Linked DNA regions of Homo sapiens: region 1 is linked to region 2. The links come from fine-mapping of genetic effects on gene expression. A gene starts in region 2. The other region holds a variant in brackets. All regions are shown on one strand. Distances are from middle to middle. Region 1 has its middle 26 kb from the start of LINC02421. Region 2 holds the start of DYRK2 (dual specificity tyrosine phosphorylation regulated kinase 2).

The links. PIP is the estimated chance that this variant, and not a neighbour inherited with it, causes the effect.
Region 1: its variant is the best candidate, but not a certain one, in a credible set for the expression of DYRK2 in monocytes after LPS (Quach 2016, PIP 0.73).

What each region holds. Positions count from the first base shown.
Region 1 is chr12:67,701,067-67,705,454 of GRCh38, forward strand. No RefSeq gene overlaps it. Among named protein-coding and RNA genes, the nearest start is that of LINC02421, 26 kb to the right of the region's middle. The variant C/T (reference allele first, on the strand shown) is at 1,972.
Region 2 is chr12:67,646,635-67,651,022 of GRCh38, forward strand. It overlaps DYRK2 (dual specificity tyrosine phosphorylation regulated kinase 2), which reads left to right and starts at 2,111. Exons shown (of 3, transcript NM_006482.3): 1 at 2,111-2,548; 2 at 3,163-3,311. The coding sequence starts at 2,500. RefSeq lists silencers at 1,774-1,883, 1,984-2,283, 2,294-2,953, 3,114-3,503.

The DNA.
Region 1 (4,388 bases), 54 kb after region 2:
GTTGTAACAATTTACACTCTGGTCAGCAGAATAAGAGAGTTCTGGTTGCTTTATATTGTCTGTCTTTTTCATTTTAGTCATTTTGGAGGGTATGTTGTAGTTTTTGCATTATGATTAAAAACATTTTTTTTTTCAGAGACAGGGACTTGTTCTGTTTCTCAGGCTGGAGTGCAGTGGTGTGATCATAGCTCACAGCAGCCTCGAGCTCCTTGGTTCAGGCCACCTCAGCCTCCTGAGTTACTGGGACTGCAGTCCTCCCAGCTCAACCTCTCCTGAGTCACTGGGATTTTTCCATCTTAATTTTCATCTGTGCTTTCCTAATGACTAATGGAGTGCCTTTTCATATGTTTATTTTCTGTTTGAACATCTTCTCTCATACAGTATCTATTCTGACATTTGCCCATTTTTCTATCGAGTTATTTTCCTGTATCTCATTGATTTGAAGGAGTGCTTTAAATATTCCAGATAATAGTCCTTTGTTAGATATATGTTTGAAAATCTCTCTCTCAGTGTATGACTTTTTACTCTCTTAATGGTTTTGGAGAACTGAAGCTCTTAATTTTAATGCAGTCCAATTGATCAATATTTTTCCCCTTCACAGTTATTGCTTTTTGTGTTTTAAGAAATCTTTGCCTGAGACAGTTCTTGTGGAAACAGCTAGTGCAACACTGAGAAACTGTTGTACATTATGTTGCCTAGAGTACAAACAGCACAGTCAGGATAGCTAAAGGTGACCCCAAGAAACCAAAAGGCAAGATGTCTGCTCATGCCTTGTTTATGAAGACAATGCTGGGAGGAAAATACAAATAATAATCCAGAGGCCTCTGTAAACTGCAGTTTCCAAGAAGTGGAAATACACTGAGAGGTGGAATACAATGTGTGGTGAAAGAGAAATACAAATTTGATGAAATGGTGTGGTATACTATGAGCAGGAAATAAAGGATTATAGACCAACTAAGGGAGGCAAGAAGAAAGATGATAACACCCTCCCCTCATGCCCCACCTTCCTCTTCTACTTAGATCTCTGCCCAATAGTAAATCCACAAATTTAGGCATTTCTACCGGAGATGTCGCCAAAAACCTGGATGACTGTTATGTATGTAGAATTCCTAAAATGCCCCCATAAAGATATTTCCCCCTAATCCCAGGAACCTGGGAATATGATGAGACATCACTCACTAGTGTGGTTATCATATTTCATGGCAGGGTTAGGTAATCTCCTTAAGATAGGAGATTATCTTGGAGGATCTAATTTAATCACATGAGACCTTTTAAGCAGAGAGCTTTCTCCAGCTGGTGGCAGAAGAAGTCAGAGAGATTTGAAGAGTAAAGGGGTTATGGCTTGAAGTTGCAGCAGGCCCACCTGAGAAGGAATTCAGGAAACCTTAAAAGACCTGAGAGAGGCCCTGGCCAACAGGCATCAAGGAAAGAGGATCCTCAGTCCTACAACCACAAGGGACTGAATTCTTCCAGCAACCTGTGTGGGCCTGGAGGTGATGTCTACTTAGAGCCTCCAGGTGAGGACCCAGCTTGGCTGATGGCTTGGTTCCCGCCTTGTGATTCCCTGAGAGGAGAACCAGGTGACATCGTGCTGGACTTTGTTAAAAGCTGTTAAGTGTGTGGTAATTTGTTATACAGTGACAGAAAAATAAAACATGCAGGATAATTTTAGTGATGGTGAAAAGCTACCTTATAACAAAGTTGAAGGAGATGTATGGGAAGTAGGTGGCCAACTATAATCTAAAGCAAAGGGATGGTGATAGAGTTTGGCTATTTGTCCTCACCCAAATCTCATGTGGAATTGTAATCCCCAATGCTGGAGGAGAGGCCTGGTGGGAGGTGTTTGGATCATGGGGGCGGATGCCTCATGAATAGCTTGGGCCATCCCCTTGGTGATAAGTGAGCTCTCACTCTGAGTTCACACAAGATCTGCTTGCTCAAAAGTTTGCGGCAGCTCCCCTGTAACCCATG[C/T]TCTCTCTCTTGCTCCCATTCTTGCCATGTGAAGCGTCTGCTTCTCTTTTGCCTTCCGCCATGACTGGAAGCTTCCTGAGGACCCCCCCAGAAGCAGATGCCACTATGCTTCCTGTATAGCCTGCTGAACTGTGAGCCAATTAAACCTCTTTTCTCATAAATTACTCAGTCTCAGGTATTTCCTTATAGCAGTGCAAGAACTGCCTGATACAGATGGAATAAAGAGATCATCTAGCACACACCAGAAAAAAAGATGGAAGAGTAAGGTGAGGAGTATGAGAAAGGGAAAAAGAGGATGCAAAAGAGAATAATGAGGAAAACTGCATGTCTGTCTCCATGTGTATGTATACAGGACAACTGCAGTAACTGACCACCTCCTATTTGAGAGTCTGTTGTTCTCACTGGGTTTCATTCCGCAATTGAAATATAATTACACTGTAGTTTTTGAAGCGCTCCAGGAAATGCAAGTGGTTTCTATGTTGTGTTCATGGGTGTCACAAGCACCCAGAAATTCAATCAAAGTTGTCCATATTTCTAAACATTTTTAAAATGAAAAGAAACTCTTTTGTTATCCTCACTCCATGAATTTAGAGATCTGTGAGAGAAGGCAATTAAAAATGTTCCTGAAATTAAAAAAAAAAAAACTTATGTGTAAGGTAGTGTTATTGATTAGAAGTCTTGAGTTATCAACTGTACATCAGCTGTAATTTGTAAAAAGAACAAAACAAACTAGATGACTTTTTATGGTCTGTGCTTGGTGGTGTAATGCTGTAGAAGGTGGCACTTTTTGGAGGGGGCTGTAGCTCAAGGATGAGGCTAAACCTCTTTACACTGCTTCCGGCTGTCTTGTTTTTCTATACAGTGACATAACATTCTGCTGACATTCTTAGCTGTGGAAAAGGGGCACTGGCTGGCATGGGAAGTGTTCTGATTATTTTTAATTAAATCTAGTAGTTTGAAAACAAACTGTAGAGGTCTTCGTTGTCAGAAAACTGCATAGGTACTGCTTCAAGGAAGGTGCATAAGCCTTCTGACCTCAAGCACACACTTTGCAACATTCTGTTATTTTTTTGGTATCATTAGAACGCTAAGACTCCCTTTCCTATTAATGTTTTTATTGAGGCACAGCATAGCACAGAAGAACGCATAGAGGAGGCATAGAGCACTGTGAAGTTCCACAAAATGAACACACCTGGGTGACAACCACCCGTGATGACAAGCCCCCATGCACGCTCCTTGAAGCTCCAGCTGCCCCTTCTCCCCAGAGGCAACCTACATCCTACTCTTAATACATAGATTTGAGTTCTCTCAGAATGTTGAAATGCTTTTGAAGCAAAGTAGAGTATGCTGTTTTTAAAACTGGGAGGAAAAAAAAGAAATTTCACTCCAAGATTATGAAGATCTTTTCCTGTTTTCTTTAGGAGTTTTATTGTTTTATCTTTTGCATTTAGGTCATGATCCATCTTGATTTAGTTTTTGGTGTGGCAGTGAGGCCAGGTTACTGTCTATCCTTGGCCCAACGGAGAACCTGGTGTCTTCACTGGGATCCCTTCCTTGGCAGGTCCTGAGTTCCTATTTTCATCTCCTGAGACTGCCAGAAACTCTGATGATTTTCAGAGGCTTTCTACTTCTGTTTTTCAACCTCCACTCCTTATATACCCCCAATTCAGCACATGCTTTGAAGGGAAAGCCAACTGTGTGTTTGAAACCCTTCAGGTCTCTTTTAGAAGTTCTCTGGCTTCTCTGTCCTCAGATTCTCGGCTCTGCCATCAGCTCACCTCTCTGCTCTCTCAAGTCTTAGCCCCTCCGATTCTCTTAGCCTTGACAGCCCACCACTGCCTTCAAACAGGTGATTTCTGCATTTAATTTGGGCTTTCTTGTTTTGCTGTAGTTCCAGGTGATGTGGAGTAACAGTGCACAGTGACTCCATATCACCTGGAACAATGGAAACATTTTAAATTGCAATTATGTAAAGTAATAAAGGAAAAAAACCCATAGTGCTGTTATAAGAGGGAATATTAGGAGTCTGTGGCTCAAGTTCACTGTGTTCTGTAGAAACACTGTAGTTTATCAATATCATACCTGAGCCTTCAGCACATAGACACAGAATTAGTGAAAGAAGCCAGCAGCTAAATGCCTAATTCCACTTCCCCCATCAGCCCTTCATTTGTAATGAGTAATTTAACCTCTCTAGGCACCAGTTTCTCTGGTTCTGGCATTTATTCTTCATCTTAGTGGCAAGATTTGTCTTACGTGCTTTAAACCCTTGGAACAAAAGGCAACCTTTGACTAACTTGGCCCATTTAAAAAGAGGTACCACAGAGGTTCCCTTCACTCATTTAAAGTGGTGCGTAGGGGCTGGGGAAGGGGTAGAAGCGGGGAGAAAAAAGAAAAAAAAATGGCGTGTGTATGCTTGA
Region 2 (4,388 bases):
CAGTGCTCCTTTTCCTCATGTTAAATGAGTAAATTAATATTACTAATTTGGAAATCGTAAACTATGGCTTCCAGTAACTAGCATTTATTTTATTCATGAGAAAACAGTGGCATATTTAGCTTCTACTGAAGTATTGTACGAATAACTTAAGCAAAAAGGGGTGTCATATTATATTAAAATTGATTTTTTTGTTTCATTTTTTTATTTGAACATCAGTTGTATGGAGTACTCATTTTAAAAAGGAAAATGGTATGAAAATAATTGTTTTGAAAGGAGAAAAAAGAGGTGTGAGCTTTCTTGAAAGTGTAAGGAAAGTAGTGTGATGGAAGTCATAGTGAAATCAGACTGGGAGTCAGAAAACCGGTTCTAGTGTCATCTCTGCTACTTAGTAGCCCTTTTCTTTTAGTCGATTCTAAACACTAAATATGCTTCCGCATGTGGATTTAAATGTGATGGTCGCCAGTGACAAGCATAGGGGGATATTTCTTGCTAGGGTCAGTTCAGGTCATGATTCCTCTAAAGGCATATTATTGGATTATTTTACTGTGGGTCTACTTTATTAGGAGAAGGCCCCGAAAGGGTGTTTTGTTTTGTTTTGTTTTGTTTTGTTTTGTTTGGAGGGACGTAATACTAGGGAAAATTCTTTTTGTCACAGGTTCCCTCTCCCAGTGACCCTAACTTGGAGGCCTCTTTAGGAGTCCCAGAGACTCTGAGAGGGTCACACTGTACCTTGAAACAGTTTTTGGCGTTTGTATAAAGCTGCGGATGCGCTCTGTAGGAGGTTGCTATGACAATTTGCAAACAGTAGAGTGGATGAAACTCCGCAGGAGGTGGCTCCCTTCCGACTGGAGTCTGCACTAGTTCGGGCCTGCACAGTAGGTCCAGCCAGGAGCCAGAGATACTCGGGCGGGGCAGAGCATAATGGACCCCTGGCCCCAAGAGAACTTCAGAAACTAGGCACCTCTCGAGAAGGAAGTGCATGGCATAACTCTGCCCCGTCATCCGGGATTTGTCGGGCTTTCCCACCCCACCTCCTCTCACAGTTGAAGTGGCAAAACCTGTGACCTTTGAACAGAGGCGCACTGTGTGCCACGCACGACGAGGCGCGGATGTGAGACGGGAAAGCAATTTTTTTTTGGTCTTCAAGGAAAAGAGAGGTTGTATATGGCGAATAAAAAAGGCAGGGAAATTCTCCACGTGTCTTGGAAGGGAAGGGGGAAAGAGATGTGTCGGGTGGGGTGAGAGGAATTCGAGGTGTCGCTCCCTCACCGCAGAGCTGAAAGGAAGGTGTGTCTCTCCCAGTGGCCGCGCAGGGGAAAGGCTCGGAGTTGTAAGGAAATAGGAGATGTCTCTGATGTTTATTTTTGCCTAGCAACCCACAGCCAACTGCTTCCCCAGCTGCCGTCCACACGCGCCTCTCTGCCTCCCCTTGTCCTAGCGACTGGCGAGCGGTCACTTGGTGTCAGTAAACCGGGGAGGGTGTGTGGTGGAGGTGGGAGGGCAGCCCCCTCTTTCGCCCCTGCTCAGGGTCAACGAGCTCAGCGGCCGCCCCTCCCGGGACTTGCCTCTCCGAGGTGACCCTCGCACAACTAAGTTATCTACATGATGAATTGGGGAGAGGGGAGTGGCTAAGTCGCTGGGACCAAGAATGGGGGGACGGGGAAGCAGTACTGTCTGTGAGCAGCCATTCAGTTCGAAGAGCTGAAAATGCATTTATGTTTAGGGGTGCGCATGGCAGGGGAGGGGTCTCTGCGGCGCTTTCGGCCGGAGGGCAGCAGCGGTAGGTTGAGCTGTAGGGCAGAGAAGGGGCGCCGCGGGGCCGGGGAGGGGAAAAGGTCGCCGGAGTGGAGCCGAGGGAAGCAGTGCAGATGGCCGGAGGGGGCGGAGGAGGGCGAGCGGAGGCCGCCGAGTTTTCCGGGGAGCGGAGGGGCGGCTGCGCGCAAACCGGGGGACTGAGAGGAGCCGGGCGGGAGGTTGGGTGGGGGTGGGGTGTGCGTGGCCGCGGCCGGGGGAGCCGGGGGCGGGGCCTGCGGCGGCGGAGGAGGGCGGCGGAGGGCGGCGGGGGCGGGGCCGCGCGCCGGCGCCTGTGTGTGAGTGCGCGGGGGCGCGCGCGCGCGGGCCCGGGAGAGGCTCCCGAGCCAGGCGGTCTTCGGTCCTCGCAGCGCTTCCAGCTCCCCGCGCCCCTATGTGAGGGAGACGGGGAGGCCCGCGGCGCGCAGGGGAGGGCGAGGCATGTGCACGGGCCGGAGGGTGCTGCAGCCGCCCGAGGAAGAGGAGGACGGCGGCGAGGAGGAGAGCGGGGGGCTCGCGGCGGCGGGCCCCGGCCGAGGGGATGCAGTGGACTGTGTGTGTCTGGCTGTAGCAGACGCGAGGCGGCGACGAGGCGCCGGGGACCCGCGCGAGGGGCGGCCGGGAGGCGGCGGCGGCGGCCGCCAGAAGTAGCAGCAGGACCGGCGGCGGCGACGGCAGCCCTGAAATGCATTTTCCTCTCCAGCGGCCATGTTAACCAGGAAACCTTCGGCCGCCGCTCCCGCCGCCTACCCGACCGGTAAGGAGGCCGTGCCGCCGCGCCGCATCCCCGGACCCCCGCCGGCCCTGGGCAGCCCCTGTGGCGCGGGCGGCCGCTGCCTGCGGGACCTCGAACAAAGTCGGCGGCGCGGCGCGGGGGAGCCCCCGGGCGGACGACGCGCCCCGGGCTCCATGCAGGGTTGTGCGCGGCCCCGAAGGCCCCTCCGCGGGGAGCCCTCGGCCCGAAGAGGCTTCTGCCTGCCGGGGGCCCGGGCGGGGACCGTCCAGGCCTGCCGCCCCGCCCTGCGCTGCCCGGGGCTTGGCGTGGCCGTGGCTCCCTGCTCAGCTGTCCAAACCCACCTCCCGGCTGCTGGCCGTCTGCAACGTGGGCCGCCTAGCCCCGGCGCGGCCCGGCTCCCCCGCCGGGTCGCGAACTCGCGCGCCAGGGCCCCACTTAACTTTGCAGCTGCCCGCGCCCCGCCCGTGGGTGTGCGCTGGGGAGCCGTGACCCGAACGCCCGTTTTTACTGCCCCGGTCTCTTCCTCCGTCTTTCTTTGGAAGAGGGTTGTCGCTGCCCAGCGGGGTTGGAGGGGGGGTCTGGGTGACTTTCTCCCCCCTGACCCTCTTTTGTCTCCTCCCGCACGTGGCTTCCAGGCCGAGGTGGGGACAGCGCCGTTCGTCAGCTTCAGGCTTCCCCGGGGCTCGGTGCAGGGGCCACCCGGAGCGGAGTGGGGACTGGCCCGCCCTCCCCCATCGCCCTGCCGCCTCTCCGGGCCAGCAACGCTGCCGCCGCAGCCCACACGGTGAGACCCAGCCCGCGGGCGGCCCGGGCGGTGGGGGCGGGAGGGGCCCCAGGCCGAAGCACCCGGACTTGGAGGGGTCTGACGCCGGGAGAAGAGGGGTCGAGATACAAGCAGCCCCACGCCTCGGGCCGATGGTCTCTCGTCGACGCCGCCCTGGTTAAGTTGGGCGAGCCCAAAGCTGCAGCCACAAAGGAAGATTCGTGGCGTGGGCCCCTTACTTCCCCTCCAGAGCTCGCCCACCCATGACCTCCTCTTCCTAGGAACTTCCTCCTTGCTGCTTTCCTTCTTTCCTCATTTTTCGTCCTTGCATCCCAGAGTTCCCTTCCCTGACCCGGTAAACATCTCTGTCCTTCCCCCACCTCCCCGTGGGTAGTGGGTATTTATAGAAACAGATACGTGTTAGGGGACAGCCAGACCGGCCTGCCCGGAAAATCGATCCCCCAAAGAGCCTCCCAGGCCTGGCTCCAGCCAGCAGGGAGCATCGCCAATTGTCCCCCGCGTGTGTAAGCATGTTTTATGAGTGCTACAGGTTTGAGCACAGCAGAAATTGTAATCAACATTAACAAAAATAAGGGCCGCCGCAGCAGTCAAAACAAGCCACCCCTGTAGGATTCTGCAGTTGGACATTATTCAAAAGGAAAGGGCAAGCGTTGCTTTGGAGGTGGGAAAGAAAAAGCACCTAACAGGTGCTGTGGTCTCTGGGAGGGGAGAGGCCAGCGTGGGACTGGTTGCTGGTGGCTGCGGAGACTGGCAAGCTGGATTCGACTAAAGCATGTACCTTTTCTCAGCTCCCAGGGATCACCCTTGGATGGTGATGGCCAGCCTGGAGGAGGTCTGCACTTGGAGGAGGTGATGGTTTGGAGGTCTTTTTTTCCCAATTGGATTTTCCACAGGAACAGCCTAAGATGGTTCTGTGTGAGGGAGGCTTGCTAGGGATTGGTTTTATTTGCTAAGTGAAAGTTGAGTTCTTGAAGAAAAGGCCATCTCCGGTCTACAGGGGAGTAGCTCTGGGGACATATGTTATGGGGAAACTTGTTTGTCAGAGAACTGTGAGGGGATGTCTAGACTGTAGTTGCA